2 linked regions of the Homo sapiens genome follow. The protein of the gene in region 1 purifies or fractionates together with the protein of each later gene. This does not show direct contact. Each region holds a gene or a part of one and is shown in the gene's direction. Other genes may lie near its edges.

Region 1 (3,952 bases):
AGGCAAAATGTACCTCGTATAACTTGACTGTTGTACCAGGTATAATAATATGATGCTCACTTGTAACTGTCATGGGTCAGTAATAAAATTGAGGTTCTTGAAGAACTTACATATGCATGGAGGAAAATATTTCATAAGTCACGAATTAAAATACTTTTTTGTTTTTATATTGCAGATTGGTTTTTCAGCAGCAGATGCTGTAACAGGACTGAAATTGGTAGAAGAGGGAGTACCCAAAGAACATTTAGCCTTATTGGCAGTTCCAATGGTTCCTTTGCAGATAATACTGCCTCTGATTATCAGCAAATACACTGCAGGTCCCCAGCCATTAAACACATTTTACAAAGCCATGCCCTACAGGTAAAAATGAAATAAAACCTTACTAAATAAGAAAGGGTAAAATGAGGAACATTCATCAATACCACTAATATCTGAGCGTAGAATTATATATATGGAAAAAGATTTGAAAAGCATCTTTTTTCAATATTATTTATATGCACTTTTATCTTTTTAACCTCCTAACAGGTTTAGATACAGCTTCTTTCATATGGTAGGCACACGGATTTCTGTTTTTGTTGTTGTTGTTATTTAAGCTAAAATGGAAGTCAACTCAATGTTTCTTTCTCTATAGATTATTGCTTGGGTTAGAATATGCCCTACTGGTTTGGTGGACTCCTAAAGTAGAACATCAAGGGGGATTCCCTATATATTACTATATCGTAGTCCTGCTGAGTTATGCTTTACATCAGGTAAGCTTGCAGTGGTTTTCTCAGGAAATAAACTGTTCTGTGTAAAATAAGGAAGACAGCTTTCTACAGTTGTCTTAAAATAATGATAATAAATTTTAAGCATGAATCTGACACTGAAGAAATTATTGATGGTGCGCTTTAAACTTTATGACTTTTCACTTAATGAGTTCTGCTGTTCATAGAAAGAGACTTTTTTATTTATTTATTTATTTTTTTCCCAAGATGAAGTCTTGCTCTGTCACCCAGGCTGGGGTGCAGTGGTGCAGTCTCGGCTCACTGCAACCTCCACCTCCTAGGTTCAAGCATTTCTCCTGCCTCAGCCTCCTGAGTAGCTAGGATTACAGGCACGTGCCACCACGCCTGGCTAATTTTTGTATTTTTAGTAGAGATAGGGTTCCACTATATTGGCCAGGCTGGTCTTGACTCCTGACTTTGTGATCCACCTGTCTCAGCCTCCCAAAATGCTGGGAATGCAGGTGCAAGCCACTGCGCCCGGCTGAAAGAGACTTTCTTATTCATTCATTCATTAAAAAAAAAATTATTCAACAAGTATTTGTTACATTTTAGAATTGATTCCAAAGCCAGCAAATTCTACTCTTGCTAAATATTTCTCAGTTTATCCCTAGGTTTCAGTTCATTCTTTCTTGAATTCCTAATATCTTTTCTTTCTGAAAGTATTGAGAAATAGTATTGGTCTTAGTTTCTGGCTTAGCTTCTGCTTTTTTTTTTTTTTTTTTTTTTTTTGAGACAGAGTCTGGCTTGCTTGCCCACTGCCCACGCCCGGCTAATTATCTGTATTTTTAGTAGAGACAGAGTTTCACCATATTGGCCAGGCTGGTCTTGAATTCCTGACCTCAAGTGATCCGCCCACCTCGGCCTCCCAAAGTGCTGGGATTACAGGCATGAGCCACCATACCCGGCCCTGGCTTAGCTTCTATATTGAAAGTTTTGACTTATTCTTTATGATTTTGAAAGCTGTGTCAAGCTGCTTTTTCTTTCTTTGTTAAATATGTTTGTAATCCTTAAAAGAAGGAATCCCCACTTTGCTCTAGCCTAAGCTGCTGTTGCAGAATGAGATTTTTTTTTTTTGAGACAGAGTTTTGTTCTTGTTGCCCAGGCTGGAGTGCAATGGCACGATCTCAGGTCACCGCAACCTCCGCCTCCAGGGTTCAAGCAATTCTCCTGCCTCAGCCTCCAAGTAGCTGGGATTACAGGCATGTACCACCATGCCCGGCTCATTTTGTATTTTTTTAGTAGAGACGGGGTTTCTCCATGTTGGTTAGGCTGGTCTAGAACTCCCAACCTCAGGTGATCCACCCGCCTCAGCCTCCCAGAGTGCTGGGATTACAGGCATGAGCCACCGCGCCTGGCCCAGAATGAGATTTTTTTGTTCTGGATGCAAGTGATTCAAGTAAATGGCAAAGGCCCAGAAGTAACCTTTGGGACTTAACTGCAGTTATTGCTAATGCATATTTCTGAGTCACTTTGGATTTTTCTAGCTTATATCCTTTGAAAGTTATATTTGCTAATGTATGAATTAATTTTTAACTGAAACGTAAAAATATGACTACCAGGTAATCTCAGTAGTTTTGTGCATACAGTAAATCATTTAGGAGAAATCTGTAGTGGATCCTGTCAGACTAAATTCTATGCTTATAAAATTATTGAGGCCAAACTGTCAAATATAATTTTTTTTTCTGTTTTGCACATGCTTAGTTAAGGCTAGATATGTAATAGAAGGTTAAAGAAATACTTTAACTAGTCAATGCTTCAGTATTTCTGTCGGTATGTTATAGCCCAAAAAAAGTATTTATTTAGCTTTGGATTTCATTTGAGAATTTCCTGAAGTGTAATCACTGAAACTCAGATAACCAGATGCTTTATGGGGGAAAAAAGGTACAAGACCAAATAAATTCGAGAAATGATGTATGACATAAGCCTTCTGTAAGTAGTGCCTTAATGATTCCTTCAACAAATTTTTTTTTTTTTTTTTTTTTTTTTTTTTTTTTTGAGACAGAGTCTCACTCTGTTGCCCAGGCTGGAGTGCAGTGGCACAATCTCGGCTCACTGTGATACCTCCACCTCCCGGGTTCAAGTGATTCTCCTGCTTCTGCCTCCCAAGTAGCTGGGATTACAGATGAGCACCACCTCACCCAGCTGATTTTTGTATTTTTAGTAGAGACGGGTTTTACCACATTGGCCAGGCTGGTCTTGAACTCCTGACCTCAGGTGATCCGCCCACCTCGGCCTTCCAAAGTGCTGGGATTATAGGTGTGAGCCACCGCACCCAGCTTCTTCAACAAATATTAAGTGAACACCTATTCCCTGCCAGAAACCATTCTGAGTACTGAAATATAACTTAATAAATCATGCCCAAATCCCTGCCCTCAAGGAGTGTATGTTGTAAATATTTCAAAAGGCATACAATGAAAGGAACCTTTTCAATTTTGTGTAAGTTAGTGTCTTTCAGTCTTATTTGACTTTGGAACTCCTTTTTCTGTGAACACCCCCAAAAACACTATTCAAAGGAATACCATTATTGAAACACAGTTTGTTTCCATCTTTCTAAATTAAAGGTTAATTCTTGCCTTTTAAGTACTTTTTGCCTCTTAAGGATGTTTTTCTCCAGTTTGTCACATAAATTTTGAAATACTTTTCTTGTGTATATGTAGGAGAAAAATATATATATTCCTATTTCTTTAAATATTTGAGTATTTATATATGTAATAAATGCATACATATAAATATGTATATATACACATGCAATATATGATACATATTTAGGTACAGTACAAATATGAGGTTTTGCATTTTGCTGTATGCATTATGTATCCTTTAGTGCCACCTCATCTAACATTTTCTCCGTGGAGTCTTTCTTGACTACTTGTGGTAGAATTAATCTCTCATTTATCTTTATGCCCCAGTAACACAATGTGTGCACTTCTATTTACAGTACTTCCTGTATTTATAATTATTTATTCCCCATTTTCCAGCCTAGAATAAATTCTTCAATGTCACAGAAGGACCAAGGTCACATCTTTGTATTGCTGGGATCTTTTTTTTTATTTATTTATTTTTATTTATTTATTTTTTTTGAGACTGAGTCTCCCTCTGTCGCCCAGGCTGGAGTGCAGTGGTGCGATCTCAGCTCACTGCAAGCTCCGCCTCCCGGGTTCACGCCATTCTCCTGCCTCAGCCTCCCA
Region 2 (3,743 bases), on another chromosome or scaffold:
TGGGTCGTGTCAGCAATGCATGGTGCCTGTCGGTTTCATTACTGGAGATGTTTCACTTCCATCAGTTGGTTATCGTTATGACTGCCAGGTTTCTCTGCTGTAAAGTTATTATTTTTTCCCTTTATAATTAATGAATATCTTGTGAAAAGACTCTTTGAAAATGGCTAAATACCCTGTTTTGCATCATACTTTACCCCACTCGTTTTTGCACCCACTGATGATTTTTGCCTGAATTAATTATTATGTTAATGATTGCCAAATGATGACTTTTCTAATTTCATAAAGAGCTTTCCTTATGAAGAGTATTTTTACTTATTTGTGTTTTATATTTTTTTCTTCTAGGAAAGCTCTTAACTTCACTTGCCTTCCTCCTCATCCCTTTTAATATTTTGTTTTAATTCAGTCATTTACTTTCCTGTCAAATATTTCTTCTTCCTACTGACTGTTTTCGAGATTGCTGACTTATACCCTGAATCTGTCAGAGAATGTTACAGTGTTTGGGACCAAGGGTGGTGGTGAGCCATTTCTTAAGTGATGATCACAGATTACCTGGCCTCTGTTACATTTAGATTTCAAAAAAACAGATAACACATGGATACCAGTGAATCTTGAGATTGATGGCCTGAGGAGTATATTTGGAAACTCAAATTATCCCTCCCAGCCACATGACACCCATTCACCCTGGCAGTGAGTCCAGCACATAGAGAAATACCATTCTTCTCACCTTGTCCTATGAATTTGTAGATTTTTTTTAATCTCTCCAAGAGAAGCTTTGTTTTCTCTTACTACAACCAACCAATTCAATACAGTGGTTAACAGTTGGCTTTTTAAGTCAGACTGACTTGGGTTCCATTCACAGCTCTGCCATTTATTGGATGCATGACCATTTTACAAACAAGAAAGCTAAGGCTTAGACCTTGTTAATTATGTGGTATTAAACAAAGCACGTAAGATAACTGTATATAAAATGATGCTAATATAGTGCCCAACTAATATATGTTAGCGATCATCACTGTTATTATTCTGATCCATAAAAATTTACATTTTTAATATTCTTGCATTATGTGAAATTGTTTAACTAGAAACAGTACTTTTACCTTATCAGAGCAAATCGTTTATGTGTATGGCAAAAAGGCAGAAAAAGAGGATGGGTATTCCCTCTAAATATAGACTTATTCTTCCGTTTTCTGATTTGAGATGTGATTTGATAACATGACAACTGAAATTATTCAAAATGTAACATTTACTTTCAAGCTACAAAGAGCCATCCAGGAGCATCCTGTTGTTCTGCTGCCTAGTCATCGAAGTTACATTGACTTCCTCATGTTGTCTTTTCTTCTATACAATTATGATTTGCCTGTGCCAGTTATAGCAGCAGGAATGGGTATGTATTGTTTTTCTGTTTTTTTAACTGTAAAAATTAAAAAGTTCACTGGCATATTCTAGCAGTACTGAGGTATTTGAAGATGATGATGAAAATAGCCTCTCCTCCTTTCTTCCAGTCCTAGCACTGAATAACTTGAGTTATGTCCTTTGTCCTGTGCTTTACTGTGCCTGAACAGACATCTGCAGGAGTTCATGCACACAGGGTTCTTTGGTGTAGGCTTAAAAAATGAGACTGCACTACTTACAGGTATTAGCTGCCTTTTGCTTTTTTTATTTGATAATATATTAATGGCTACCTCTCTAGGCAATAAATAGATCTAACTTTTTAAAGTTTATTTTTAATTGTGATAAAATACATATAACATCAAATTTGCCATCTAAGTCATCTTCAAAAATATAGTTCAGTGGCATTAAGTACATTTACATTGTTGTGCTGCTATCAACACCATCCATCTCCAGAACTCTTCATCTTGCAAAACTGAAATGGTACCCATTCAACACACTCCCCGTTCTACCCTCCCCCTGACCCTGGGCAATCAGCATTCTACTTTCTGTCTCTGTGAACTACTCTAGATGCTTGATATAGGTGGAATCATACAGTACTTGTCCTTTTGTGACTGGCATATTTCACTTAACAGAATGCCCTCAAGGTTCATCCATGTTGCAGCATGTGTCAGAATTTCCTTCCTTTTTGAAGTTGGAAATGCATCTGCTCAAGACCCTGCTTTCCATTTTTTTATATATATACAAAAATGGTATATATGGAATTGCTGGGTCTTGTGGTAATTTTTTTTCATTTTTTGAGGAACCACCATACTGCCTTCCTTAGCAGCTGCACCATTTTACATTCCCACCAAAAGTGCACAAGAGTTCCAGTTGTTCTACATCCTTGCCAACACCTGTTATTTTCTGATATGTTTTATAATAATTTTAATGAGTGTGAAGTGGTATCTCCTTGTAGTTTTGATTTGCATTTCCCTAATGATTAGTGATGCTGAGCATCTTTTTTGTGTGCTTATTGGCCATTTGTATATCTTTGGAGAAATGTCTGTTCAAGTCCGTTATTTTTTAATTAGGTTGTTTGGGGCTTTTTTTGTTGAGTTGTAGGAATTGTTTCTACATCCTGGATATTCACCCCTTATCAGACAGATGATTTGCAAATATTATCTTCCATTTCATGGGTTACCTTTTCACTCTGTTGATTGTGTTATTTGATGCATGGAAGTTTTTAATTGATGTAGTCCAATTGATCTATTTGTTTCTTTGGTTCCCTGGTTCCCTGTGCTTTTGGTATCAGATCGAAGAAATCATTGCCAAATCCGAGGTCATGAAGCTTTTCCCTTATGTTTTATCCTAAGAGTTTTATGGTTTCAGGTCTTACATTAAGATCTTTGGTTTTTTGAGTTAATTTTTGTATATGGTGTAAGTTAAGGGTCCAACTTCATGTCTAACATTAATTTTAATAGCCATATAATATTCAGCAGTGTGGATATTTCATAATTTAGTAGTTTTGCTGTTATAAACAATGTCATAATACATTTTTATATTGGTGCTTTTATTCCTGTAAGATCGATTCCTAAAAGTGGGATTGCTAAGGCATATAAGTTGTTTATCCACTCCCTTTTAGGGTAGCCAGGAAAGCCAGGATTCAAGTATACACGTTTGTTAATAAATGCAGTGAATGGTAAGGTTAAAACTGCCAAGAACTTAAGCACTTTAAAAGCATTTTCATCTGAACAAACTTGTGAGGAAGTTATTTGAAAACTAGGGGAAATGAAGAGAAAGACTATTTTAAAACTGCTGGTAGCAATCTTCCTTTCTTACAAGATTTGCCTTATTTAATCTCTTCCAACAAAAGTAGGTTGATGTTTTTTCCTGGTAGGCAAAAGATGAGAGCGGGTTTGGCCTGGCTGTCCAGAGCATGAAGGGCACATATTGGTCTGTTGTCAGGCTCAGCAGCATGGCTGACTAAAGACATTGACATCATGACATTGTCATGTTGCTCTGCTGTTGCCCCTGGCTCTAGCTGGCCTACTTGTAAAGGGAGTGGTGCATGGAGAAGCACAAGGTAACCTCCCAGTGAGCACCTGGCCCACAGAATCCCTTCTTTTCTATAATTCTATTAGGTATCTCTTATGTATTTTAATGTCAAAGTATAATAATATCATAGGGGTGTCTTACATTTATGAAATCTTTCTTAATAATGTTTGAGTTTAGGCCAGGCACAGTGGCTTATGCCTGTAATCCCAGTACTTTGGGAGGCCGAGGCAGGAGGACTGCTTGAGGCCAGGAAGTTTGTGACCAACCTAGCCAACATAGCGAGACCCTGTCTCATAAAATAAAATAATAAAATATAA

Evidence for each region. The genes of interacting proteins can lie anywhere in the genome.
Region 2: the proteins of SLC33A1 (region 1) and GNPAT purify together in Homo sapiens (affinity purification with mass spectrometry; one large-scale study listed by BioGRID and IntAct). This does not show direct contact.

What each region holds. Positions count from the first base shown.
Region 1 is NC_000003.12:155,830,265-155,834,216, reverse strand, and holds part of SLC33A1 (acetyl-coenzyme A transporter 1), read left to right. Parts: intron 1-175; coding exon 176-360; intron 361-631; coding exon 632-749; intron 750-3,952. UniProt on the Homo sapiens protein: Acetyl-CoA transporter that mediates active acetyl-CoA import through the endoplasmic reticulum (ER) membrane into the ER lumen where specific ER-based acetyl-CoA:lysine acetyltransferases are responsible for the acetylation of ER-based protein substrates, such as BACE1.
Region 2 is NC_000001.11:231,261,469-231,265,211, forward strand, and holds part of GNPAT (dihydroxyacetone phosphate acyltransferase), read left to right. Parts: intron 1-1,254; coding exon 1,255-1,384; intron 1,385-3,743. UniProt on the Homo sapiens protein: Dihydroxyacetonephosphate acyltransferase catalyzing the first step in the biosynthesis of plasmalogens, a subset of phospholipids that differ from other glycerolipids by having an alkyl chain attached through a vinyl ether linkage at the sn-1 position of the glycerol backbone, and which unique physical properties have an impact on various aspects of cell signaling and membrane biology.